Homo sapiens: one gene and its partners. The protein of the gene in region 1 purifies or fractionates together with the protein of each later gene. This does not show direct contact. Each region holds a gene or a part of one and is shown on either strand. Other genes may lie near its edges.

The links.
Region 2: the proteins of EHMT2 (region 1) and CTBP1 purify together in Homo sapiens (affinity purification with mass spectrometry; 6 studies listed by BioGRID and IntAct, with this or other methods). This does not show direct contact.
Region 3: the proteins of EHMT2 (region 1) and MIER1 purify together in Homo sapiens (co-immunoprecipitation; 3 studies listed by BioGRID and IntAct, with this or other methods). This does not show direct contact.

What each region holds. Positions count from the first base shown.
Region 1 is NC_000006.12:31,895,933-31,899,676, reverse strand, and holds the start of EHMT2 (histone-lysine N-methyltransferase EHMT2), read left to right. Parts: upstream 1-1,978; 5' UTR 1,979-1,999; coding exon 2,000-2,041; exon of another isoform or gene 2,042-2,111; coding exon of another isoform or gene 2,112-2,687; coding exon 2,688-2,754; intron 2,755-2,852; coding exon 2,853-3,071; intron 3,072-3,160; coding exon 3,161-3,414; intron 3,415-3,744. UniProt on the Homo sapiens protein: Histone methyltransferase that specifically mono- and dimethylates 'Lys-9' of histone H3 (H3K9me1 and H3K9me2, respectively) in euchromatin.
Region 2 is NC_000004.12:1,235,516-1,239,259, reverse strand, and holds part of CTBP1 (C-terminal-binding protein 1), read left to right. Parts: intron 1-922; coding exon 923-1,077; intron 1,078-1,082; exon of another isoform or gene 1,083-3,744. UniProt on the Homo sapiens protein: Corepressor targeting diverse transcription regulators such as GLIS2 or BCL6. Has dehydrogenase activity. Involved in controlling the equilibrium between tubular and stacked structures in the Golgi complex.
Region 3 is NC_000001.11:66,923,275-66,927,018, forward strand, and holds the start of MIER1 (mesoderm induction early response protein 1), read left to right. Parts: upstream 1-1,715; 5' UTR 1,716-1,754; coding exon 1,755-1,821; intron 1,822-2,058; exon of another isoform or gene 2,059-2,260; intron 2,261-2,867; coding exon 2,868-2,968; intron 2,969-3,059; exon of another isoform or gene 3,060-3,098; intron 3,099-3,744. Other genes in the region: DNAI4 (dynein axonemal intermediate chain 4), read right to left, coding at 1,388-1,557. UniProt on the Homo sapiens protein: Transcriptional repressor regulating the expression of a number of genes including SP1 target genes. Probably functions through recruitment of HDAC1 a histone deacetylase involved in chromatin silencing.

The DNA of each region.
Region 1 (3,744 bases):
CCTTCTCTTAGAAGTGCATGTATATGTGGAGGGAGGGAAAAGGGTCCTATAGAATGAGGGAAGACAAAAATGTTTTATTCCTGGCTAAGGCTGCCCAGGGGAAGGTTCTGACATTTCTCGAGATAAGAAGGGTTGGGGGGTGGGTGGGAACAGGGAGGGAATTTGGCAGGAGGACATGCTCCTGCTTAGAATAGACCTGGGGTGAGGGAGTGGTAAGGGGAAAAGATTACTGAGTCCCAGAAAAGGAAGTGGGAGACAGTTCTTGCATGCTGGGGAAATGAGACTGCGAGTATGAGGCTTGCTGAAATTTGAGGGAGAACAAAGTAAGACGCCAGGTAAGAGAACGTGGGGTGCGCATCCTGGGTAGATATTGGGAAGTGGGGGTACAATAGCAAGAAACAATGGATAGTCATGGGGGTGGGGGGGATAGGGCACTTAGAAAAGAAAGAACACAAGAAGGGCTGTTGGGAGGGAGGGAGAGGAGTAGAGACATACAGTATTTTTTAAGAAAAAACATATTTTTTAGGATTTTTTCTGGAGTTTGGGGTTTTAGTTTTTCTGCTTTTGTTTTCCACAAAATAAAAAACAAAAAAAAACTTTTTTTTTTCCTTTACACTCTGGCAACTGCGTGTACATGACTATCCTGCCCTAGACAGCCTCTCCCTGTGATGCTGCGTTCTTAATACCTAGAGGTCACAACTCTGCATATCCCTTGCCTGAAGGAGCCCAGCCCTAAACATGGGAGAGGAGTGTGACAAGTGAGCTCCTCTGGTCAGGGACTCCCCCAAGTCCCCACCCCCAGCCCTCCACCAGTTCTGCAATCTCAACACTTAGCCAGGTACCTCACAGTACAAGTGATTGGCAGTCGTGGGGATGCACATGAACTCTATTTGAGGGACTTAGGATCAGTGCTAGGGATGAGCTACAGGTGGCCAACCTGCCCACGGAAATTGTAAGCAGGAGTCTGTTTGGTCATATTTTGTCTGGGGTAAATAGGTCATGTCTTCAGGAAAGCTAAAAAAAAAAAAAAAAAGCTAAGTTTGGATTAAGGTGCAGGGAAAACTACAATTCCCAGAAAGCTCTGGAATAGTTAACCAAAGAGAACTACAGTTCCCAGAAGGCCTTTAATTGGCCTCAGGTGCCCCACCTGCCTGTGTCAAATACTGCGTGTGAAATCATACAGATCTTTTCCAAACTCGACCAAAACGTAATACCTAAAGGGATGGTACCCTAAATACAGCTATCGAGATTGTCTATCTTGGTGTATATCATTTATACTTAAATTGTCCGCTGGGCTATGACCCACGGAGTACCTGACTGTGCTTATGAAGTGTTCGGCAAAAAAGGTTTACTTACTGCAGTGTCACCAGTCAGTAATGACGTTCGGGCCGCTGGGCTTACCTGGATCCCTAGTGCGTGTGAAGGTGTAACACGCCTGATATAAACAGAAGAGACATTTAGCCACAGGTTTTCAGAAGGGCACGCTGCTCCAGGGGACATGAAGCAGCATGCTAGAACCAGCCAAGAATAAAGGTGTCCTCCGCGTCCCTATCGCCCCTTCGTGCTCGTTAGAAAGAGCAAAAAGGCGAGGCCAAAACTGAGGCCAAGCCTTCTATCTGGTAACCCAAAAACTAGAAAGGCAGAAAAGCAACCAGAGGCGGGAAAAGCCCAACCAGGCCAGAGGAAATACAGCCGCTGCCGAGAGCCGAGAAGTTCAGAAGCTCCGCTTGTTACCTAAAACCAGATGGGGACAGAGACGCCACACCTGGGCCCAGGCGTGTCTCGCCCTCGGTCCCTGCAGAACTGAGGCCAGGAATGACAGGAATTCTCCCTTGCAGCTCCCAGCTTAGGACAGTCACAGCCATCTCCGAGGCCGCTCTCAGGGGAAAATGGCCAAAAAGCATGTAGCGGCTCCTTTAAGGCTCCTCCTCGCCCTCCCTCCCTCGCCCACGTGACCCGGGGCGGCCGCGCGCCGGCTCGGCCCCCAGCGCAAGCGGCGATGGCGGCGGCGGCGGGAGCTGCAGCGGCGGCGGCCGCCGAGGTGCGGAAGGGGAGGGGGAGAGGCGGGTGCATGCCCGCGCGCGCGCCCGGGGGAAGCGCGCGCCCGTGCAATGCTCCGGGGGTGCAACGGGGCCGGGGGGCCCGGGCGGGACTTGCAGCAATCCAGGGGGCCAGCACCGGGGGCGGATGAGGGGACCAGGGTGTGGGAGGTGGGGGGAGTGGGCACGGAGGCGCGCGTGCAGCCGCCGGCTGCCCCTGAGTGGGCGACGGGCGCCGGGGCCCCAGGAGCACGCGTGAGGGGCACGAGGGGCCGTCCACCGGGCTGGGGGGCAGCGGGTGCTGGAGGGGTTGGTGCCCGGGGTCCCCGCGGCCTGGGGGACAAAGGGGGAGCGGCGCGTGCAGCCGGGAGGAGGGGGCGGGGCCGGGGCGCGGAGGCCCCGCCCCCTCCCCCTCCTCTTCTCTCGGCCCCAGAGATGCGGGGTCTACCGAGAGGGAGGGGGTTGATGCGGGCCCGGGGGAGGGGTCGTGCGGCCCCTCCGGGCAGCCGAGGCCGCGGAAGGGGGGGGCCCCACAGAGGAAGAGGTAGGCCCCGGAGCCTACTCTCTCTTCCCAGGGCCCAGGCATCCTGGACCCCCCAACTCTCTACTGGGCTGACCAGCCCTCCTGTCCCTTGTCTCCCCTCCCAGGGGGAGGCCCCCGCTGAGATGGGGGCGCTGCTGCTGGAGAAGGAAACCAGAGGAGCCACCGAGAGAGGTGAGTGCAGCTAAAACGGGCCCCAATTGGACCGTCACCTTCCCTAAACACAGGATCTCCTGAGCCCTTAGCTCTGAACTTTTTCTCTTCCTCTACAGTTCATGGCTCTTTGGGGGACACCCCTCGTAGTGAAGAAACCCTGCCCAAGGCCACCCCCGACTCCCTGGAGCCTGCTGGCCCCTCATCTCCAGCCTCTGTCACTGTCACTGTTGGTGATGAGGGGGCTGACACCCCTGTAGGGGCTACACCACTCATTGGGGATGAATCTGAGAATCTTGAGGGAGATGGGGACCTCCGTGGGGGCCGGATCCTGCTGGGTGAGAGGCTGGGTAGCCTGGGGGGTTGGTGGGAAATTTCTGACTCTTGCCTTCTTTCTTATCTTGCCTTTTGCTTGCCTGTTTTCTAGGCCATGCCACAAAGTCATTCCCCTCTTCCCCCAGCAAGGGGGGTTCCTGTCCTAGCCGGGCCAAGATGTCAATGACAGGGGCGGGAAAATCACCTCCATCTGTCCAGAGTTTGGCTATGAGGCTACTGAGTATGCCAGGAGCCCAGGGAGCTGCAGCAGCAGGGTCTGAACCCCCTCCAGCCACCACGAGCCCAGAGGGACAGCCCAAGGTCCACCGAGCCCGCAAAACCATGTCCAAACCAGGAAATGGACAGGTGAGTGGGATGGGAGAGATGGGATAATCAACCATAAACCTTTGGTGAGCTCTTTTACAGTTTCACTTAAGGCTTCTACTCCATTTACTCATTCACATATTTAAGCAAGGGGCTGCTGTGTGTCAAATATTAGGCTGTGCTTGATCTGTGAACCAACAGACAGGTTCCTCTCTTCCTGCAGTTTACATTCTTGGGTGGTGAAAGTTTGATGTTAAAGAGTCAATTATATAGTTAATGTCTTAATTACTCTTATGATAATGACAAGGTAAGGGAATTTCAAACCACTCTTCCTTTCTACCTCAAAGCAAGCCCTTGGGGAACTCATCTGTC
Region 2 (3,744 bases), on another chromosome or scaffold:
ACGGGGCGGTCGGGCGGTGCCTGGAAGCTGCCATGCTTCTGTGACGCCTCAGAGCCCTTATTTCTCCAGTTGGCCCCGATGAGGCTTAGTTGCGTCATACGCGAAAGGAATGGGTGTTAATGAGCTTTAATCATCTGGTTCTGGGAAGGTCAGGGGCACAGAGTGGACTTTAACAGGTTTTAACCCTTTTCTTCCTTTGTTCTGTTTCTTTTCTCTTCACATCTATAATTGGAAGTAATGCCAGGCAGAGGGTTGGGGGCGTCCTACGTGAAACACTGGTGACCCCATCAGGGATTCCGGGCAGCCACGCGGTAGCCCAGGCAGGAAAGGGACAACCATGTTCCCAAAGTCCCGTGCTGTCATCTTGTGTCCTCCAGTGTCCTGGGTCCCTCCTGTCCCCCTGCCTCATGGAGCTGCCCTGGGGTCTCGGACGGTCTGGGAGGGTCTCGGGGGGTCTCAGAGGGTCTTGGAGGGCCTAGGAGGGTCGGGAGGTGTCTCGGTGGGTCTGGAAATGTCTTGGGGAGTCTCAGAGGGTCTGGGAGGTTCTCAGAGGGTCTGGAGATTTCTTGGGGGGTCTCGGAGGGTCTTGGAGGGTGTGAGAGGGTCTCAGAGGGTCTGGGAGGATCTCGGAGGGGCCTTGGAGGGTCTCGGAGGGGACTTGGAGGGTCTCGGAGGTCCTGTGCCCAAGGGAGATGGTAGTGGGTGTCCACAGTCTGTGTCCACTTGAGTCAGCGAGCTGAGGCACACACGAGTTGTCTTTCACGTGGATTTTTAATTTACTTTTTACAAATATCACAACATATAGACCAGAAAACCCCCGGCGGTCGGCCCTCGTTGGCCCGTGCACAGTGGGTGGCGTGGAGTGGGTTGTAGCCACGGGGCCGCAGTGGTGCAAGGCTGAGCACTTGCCTCTGTCTTGCAGGCGTCCGACCTCCGATCATGAACGGGCCCCTGCACCCGCGGCCCCTGGTGGCATTGCTGGATGGCCGGGACTGCACAGTGGAGATGCCCATCCTGAAGGACGTGGCCACTGTGGCCTTCTGCGACGCGCAGTCCACGCAGGAGATCCATGAGAAGGTACCACCACGTGGTCGCCTGGGGCTGGCAGAACCGCACGTTGGGGGGAGTTGGAGGGACGGGAGCACGGCAGGCCCGGGCCACAGCAGGTCTGGGTGCCACTGGGGCAGGAGCAGCCTCTGTCCCAGTCGTCCCGCGCCGTCAGGAGGTGGACACGGGGTTTTCCCTGGACACCATCAGGAGGTGGACATCGGGTTTGCCCTGAGCCCCATCAGGAGGTGGACACGGGGTTTTCCCTGTGCCCCATCAGGAGGTGGACACCACGTTTGTCCTGAGCCCCATCAGGAGGTGGACATTCGGTTTGCCCTGTGCCCCATCAGGAGGTGGACACGGGGTTTTCCCTGAGCCCCATCAGGAGGTGGACACTCGTTTTGCCCTGTGCCCCATCAGGAGGTGGACACGGGGTTTGTCCTGAGCCCCATCAGGAGGTGGACACGGGGTTTTCCCTGAGCCCCATCAGGAGGTGGACACGGGGTTTGTCCTGAGCCCCATCAGGAGGTGGACACGGGGTTTGTCCTGAGCCCCATCAGGAGGTGGACACGGGGTTTGTCCTGAGCCCCATCAGGAGGTGAACACCGGGTTTTCCCTGAGCCCCATCAGGAGGTGGACACAGGGTTTGTCCTGAGCCCCATCAGGAGGTGGACACGGGGTTTGTCCTAAGCCCCATCAGGAGGTGGACACGGGGTTTTCCCTGCACACCATCAGGAGGTGAACACCGGGTTTTCACTGAGCTCCATCAGGAGGTGGACACGGGGTTTGTCCTGAGCCCCATCAGGAGGTGGACACGGGGTTTTCCCTGAGCCCCATCAGGAGGTGGACATGGGGTTTTCCCTGAGCCCCATCAGGAGGTGGACACTCGGTTTGTCCTGAGCCCCATCAGGAGGTGGACACCGGGTTTTCCCTGAGCCCCATGAGGAGGTGGACACTCGGTTTGTCCTGAGCCCCATCAGGAGGTGGACACTCGGTTTGCCCTGTGCCCCATCAGGAGGTGGACACTCGGTTTATCCTGAGCCCCATCAGGAGGTGGACACTCGGTTTGCCCTGTGCCCCATCAGGAGGTGGACACTCGGTTTCTCCTGAGCCTCATCAGGAGGTGGACACGGGGTTTTCCCTGAGCCCCACACTCGGTTTGTCCTGAGCGCCATCAGGAGGTGGACACTGGGTTTGCCCTGTGCCCCATCAGGAGATGGACGCTCGGTTTCTCCTGAGCCCCATCAGGAGGTGGACACGGGGTTTGCCCTGAGCCCCATCAGGAGGTGGACACCGGGTTTGCCCTGAGCCCCATCAGGAGGTGGACATTCGGTTTGCCCTGAGCCCCATCAGGAGGTGGACACCGGGTTTGTCCTGAGCCCCATCAGGAGGTGGACATTCGGTTTGCCCTGAGCCCCATCAGGAGGTGGACACCGGGTTTGTCCTGAGCCCCATCAGGAGGTGGACACTTGGTTTGCCCTGTGCCCCATCAGGAGGTGGACACTTGGTTTGCCCTGTGCCCCATCAGGAGGTGGACACCGGGTTTGCCCTGAGCCCCATCAGGAGGTGGACACCGGGTTTGCCCTGAGCCCCATCAGGAGGTGGACACGGGGTTTGTCCTGAGCCCCATCAGGAGGTGGACACTCGGTTTGTCCTGAGCCCCATCAGGAGGTGGACACCGGGTTTGCCCTGTGGCTTCTTGATTCATTTTCAGTTTTTTCCCAGAGAGCAGGTCCTCGGGATGCCAGCTTTTGTGGCGGGGGTGGAGTAAGGTGCTTCCCCCGGCCCCAGTTGCGCGGCGGTCTTCACACGGGCGGTCTCGGCATTGCCCGCGGCCTGGCTTTGGTCCAGCAGTGAGCAGCCTTTGGGCAGCTTTCCTGATTCTTGTTTGCTCAGGAGACCCACAGGCTCCTCCGTGATGAGAACTAGGTTGGTCTGGCTTCTACTTGTAGCCAGGGATCAGTGATTCAGAGCAGCTTTTCCCTGAAGACAGACGAAGAAGCTGGGCCCCCAGGAGCTCACAGGATAGGGCCAGGCCCAGGCTGCAGCCTGGAGAGGCCTATAACCTGCAGGAACGGGCGGGCCTTGCCAACTCTGGCCTGGGGTGTTGGCTGTTCTGGAAGAAGTAGCTGAGAGGCTGAATTTGGCTTTGGTGGCATCACTGGCCTGCTGGGTGTGGGGCCCTGCCGGGATATCCATGGCCTGAAAGGTGACATCTGGAGTGAGGGTGACCTGGACTCTGACGCGCCACACGATCGGCACCCAGCCTGCTGATGTCCAGGAAACCTTGAATCTGGATTTTTGGGGACCCCGCACTGCCGGCCCCAGGTGCCTGGCAAAAGAAGTAAGACGGCCCCTTTAGAGGAAGACAGCGTCAGCCGAGGCCTCGGGTCATTTCTACAAATCACCATCTGGTGCGGGGTCCATCACATGCAAACAGAGGTAACCAGGCAGTCAAGGAGATGCGCAAAACGCAGAAGCCAGGGAAGCAGTGCCACCCGCAGGAGCTCCCCGTGCTGCCCACGAGCCGATCACCCCAGCCCAGCCCCCAGGAGGCTGGGCCAGACACCGACGAAGAGCTGATGACTCTGGAACGGGGCGTAGCAGCGTTAGGGGAGAAAATGAGATGCGGATCTGAGAAAACGGCGAAGCTGATCGGTGGAACTGAGGGGCGGGTTTACCAGCTGACCAGGCGGC
Region 3 (3,744 bases), on another chromosome or scaffold:
CTTAGGTGTACAGTCTACTATACAATTGTAGCCTAGGTGTATAGTAGCCCATACATCTACGTTTGTGTAAGTACACTAGAAGATATTTGCAAAATGCTGAAATTGGCTAACAAGGTATTTCTCAGAAGGTATCACCATCGATGCATGACTGTATTTAGTTATGGTAGTGAGGAACAGATACCAGCAAAGGATCTGGGAAAGGTGAAACCATGAACCAAGACAAGAACTAGGAAGAGTGGTTTCTCAGAACCCAAATAAAGCTTTTCAAAGATCGAGAAGCGATAAACCCGACCGACACTGCTTCATTCAAAAAGAATGAAACTGTGGATCAGCCATTGTATTTGGTTGCATGGCTATTGCTGGCTTTCATAGAAGCTGTTTTGATGGAGTGGTAGGATGGACAAAAGCGTGAGTACCATATTCAAGAGAGAATGCAAGGTTCTCTCCCAAGAACTCTCAACAAGTTCCGCTGAAGAAAGATTAGCTGAGGTGGAGGAGATTGGAGAGGGGAAGAGAAAACAAATTACTTAGGGAATTTTGGGGGAACTTAGTGGGCAGCATTACGGGCAGCGCTAAGGAACCATTTAAAGTAAGACAAGTCCACACAGCTGTGTGCTTTTCTACAGTCTTGTTCAACTGCTGCATAACAACAGAATGTTGGAAGCAGGAATTAGTTTTAAAGTAAGATGGTATTGACGAGACGACAATAAAATACCTCTACTACAGAGCACAGCAATGTTCGGCCTGGTGGCTCACAGAAGCTGAGGCTCTTGAACGTCTGGGCACAGCATGAAAGCATCAAGCTTGAGAGACTGCAGGCCTTAACAAACTAGAAGTGCTAGAACGATGGTTCTAAACCAGGTCTTTTCTCACACAGCAAGCACAGCAATAGAGATTTATTTTATCTTATTTTTTAGACAGAGTCTCGCTCTGTTGCTCAGGCTCGAGTGCAACGGCACGATCTCGGCTTACTGCAACCTCCGCCTTCCGGGTTCAAGGGATTCTCCTGCCTCAGCCTCCCAAGTAGCTGGGATTACAGGCATGTGCCACCACGTCCGGCTAACTTTTTGTATTTTTAGTACAGACGGGGTTTCACCATGTTGGCCAGCCTGGACGCTAACTTCTGACCTCAGGTGATCCACCCCACTCGGCCTCCCAAAGTGCCGGGATTACAGGTGTGAGCCACCGCGCCCAGCCCAGTAGAGATTCTTTTAAAGACTGCGGTAGGTCGATAAAGGAGACATTGTGGCCTAGGAGCTTCAAGGTCTACAGACTGAACCCAGTTAGGGTAGGGCCCCTTTCCAAATCCAGAAATGGTATCTATTAATAGAAGGGCTCCCTCCGGGTCCCAGGGGGATGGACTACGGTTTTTAGCGCCGGAACTTACAACCCGAAGTTCTGCTGCTTGTGACTGCCTGCCGGAGAGACTGGCATGGTGGCGACCAGCTGGGGAGTGGTGCACCACCCCTTTTTTTGGCCGCCTCTGAAGTCCCTGTACCCCCAAGCTCCTCCGTTAGCGGCTCGGGCCGAGGCTCCGGAATGTTTGCCGGGCGTCATGGCGACGGTGGAGCCCTGGCTCAACAAGCGGCCGCGCGGTTGGCTGGCGGCACGAGGCCGAGGAGGAGGGCGGAGGCGGAGGGGAGGGCAGAGGGTTGGTGGAGCTGGAGGAAGCTCCGGACGACGACTGGAAGAAGGAGGCGGGCGGCCCGGGCCTCAGGCCCCTCCCAGGCTCTGAGTCTCCCGGCTGCAGGCGGATGGATGGGGCTTCTTCAGGCGGTGGCGGCAGCAGCGAAGGTGGCGGCGGCAGCAGCGGCAGCGGCTGTAAGTGCAGCCTCCACAAGCCATCTCTCCCCTTCTATTCCAGTTTGGGATGAGGGGCTCCTGAGGTGTCCTCAGTCCCCTTTCTCTCCTTCCCCTCCCCCACGGCAGTGTACCGCCCGGAAGACCCTTAACTTCCGGGGAGGGGCTGCCGCAGAACGCGCCTGGCTTGCTCTCCGCCGGCTGCCAAAGGCGCATGCGCAGCTTCCTCCCTCTGGCCATCGACTGCCTCCCAGCGCCGCCTTTTTGCCTTCGCGGTGGTGGCGCCGCGCTGGGAATCCGCTGCGGAGTGAGTTCGCCTCGCCCCGTTCGCTTCGGTCCCTGATCCCAGTCGGGGTGGGGCTAAGCTGACCACCCTGCTGTGGCTCCGCCTCTTTCTCCTGTATTTCCCTCACTTGTGTCCCATCCCCGGGAGGCTCTCGCTTGCACTGCAGCCTTTATGGTGAGCAGCGCCCTGGGCCAACTTGCCCTTTTCGGATGGAGTCAGGGAGGGAGGAGAGACTCGAATAGGGTATTACTGTAAGGAAACGAGGTCCTCCTAGCGCGTGGGAGGATCCCTTGGGACAGATGCCCGCCGCTCTTTACTCTTGTTCTTTCAGCTTGTAGTGGCTAGGTCCCTGGCCTGGAGCCTATCTGTGGTCCCTGCATGCTGTGTAACCTTGAGCGAGTCACTATCCCTCTCTGGGCTTCAGTTTTCCCTATTTAAAGCTTCCTCCAACGCTAGAATTCTGCATTTCTGCAGAAGAACTTATGTAATTACAAGATTGACTTGGCTATTGAGGCCGCTTCACCAAGATGACCCGGAGTTGACTGAACCTTCTTCACTTATGGGTGGAATGAGGCGACCTATTTATTGGGTCGCTTTTATTCCTTTATCATTAGTTACAAATTGCATGACTTAAGGCTCATTAAATGTTTTTCTAAAATTGTCATGGGATCCTTGTCCTGATTCCCGACCATCTTTTTAAAAATGCGAAACAGGGTGGATGGTGAGCTTGTATCATCGTTTCTGTCTCCTTGCTACTGAGGCTCTCTTTCCTTTGATCCAGATGGTGTGGTCGCTCGATTCTCCCAGTGCCTGGCTGAGTTTCGGACGTGGTTAAGAACCAACTGGTTGAGGTTCAATGCAGACAAGACGGATGTGATGCTGGTAGGCAGGGGTACACTTGGAGATTAAGGGAGGGAAAATCCAAACTCCCTCAAGTAATATAAGATTATATTACTCTTCTTATATGTTCCAGTGTTTGAGAACTGATGGGCCAAAAATTTCCAGAATTTGGGTGAGATAAAAATAACATGTCATCAATGTAAAAACCATAATCATAGTTTGTAATATTCTGATAAAATGGGGCCACTGGATAAAACTGTAAAAATTATGAAAAGAAAATCCAAAACTGTTATTTGAAGAACCAAAAGCCTATATAAGTGTTTTAGAGTGGCATTAATAACAAAAAATGAAACTAACGAAAGATGATGCTGATTGTCACTATAGATGTGGGGCTTCCAAATGTAATAGGCTAAGTTTTTTAGATGTAGGTATTTTCAACCAAATTAGTAATTATCCATAAAATTTTACCACCACATCATAAAGACATGGTGTAGGCTGTTGCTTTTAAATAAAAATTTCAGGAAATAGTTTATAAACTAATCTCAAAAGAGACTCATGGACGCTGAAAATTGTTAGATATAGAATTTTTTAGTTTTGGATGTGTTGTATTAATCTATTTCAGTCAGCTAACCCCAGAGTCTAAATTGTTATAAGTACAGTATTTTCTTGGTGCATTTTGAGAGGTACCTTTTTGGATTGCATAACAGATAGGTTTATATAGTATATATATATATGTTACTTGTATTTGAATCAGGTGTTGGTACTGAATAAAAGGTTATATTTCTTAGGTATATGTAAATTGCCAAAGAAGTTTGTTC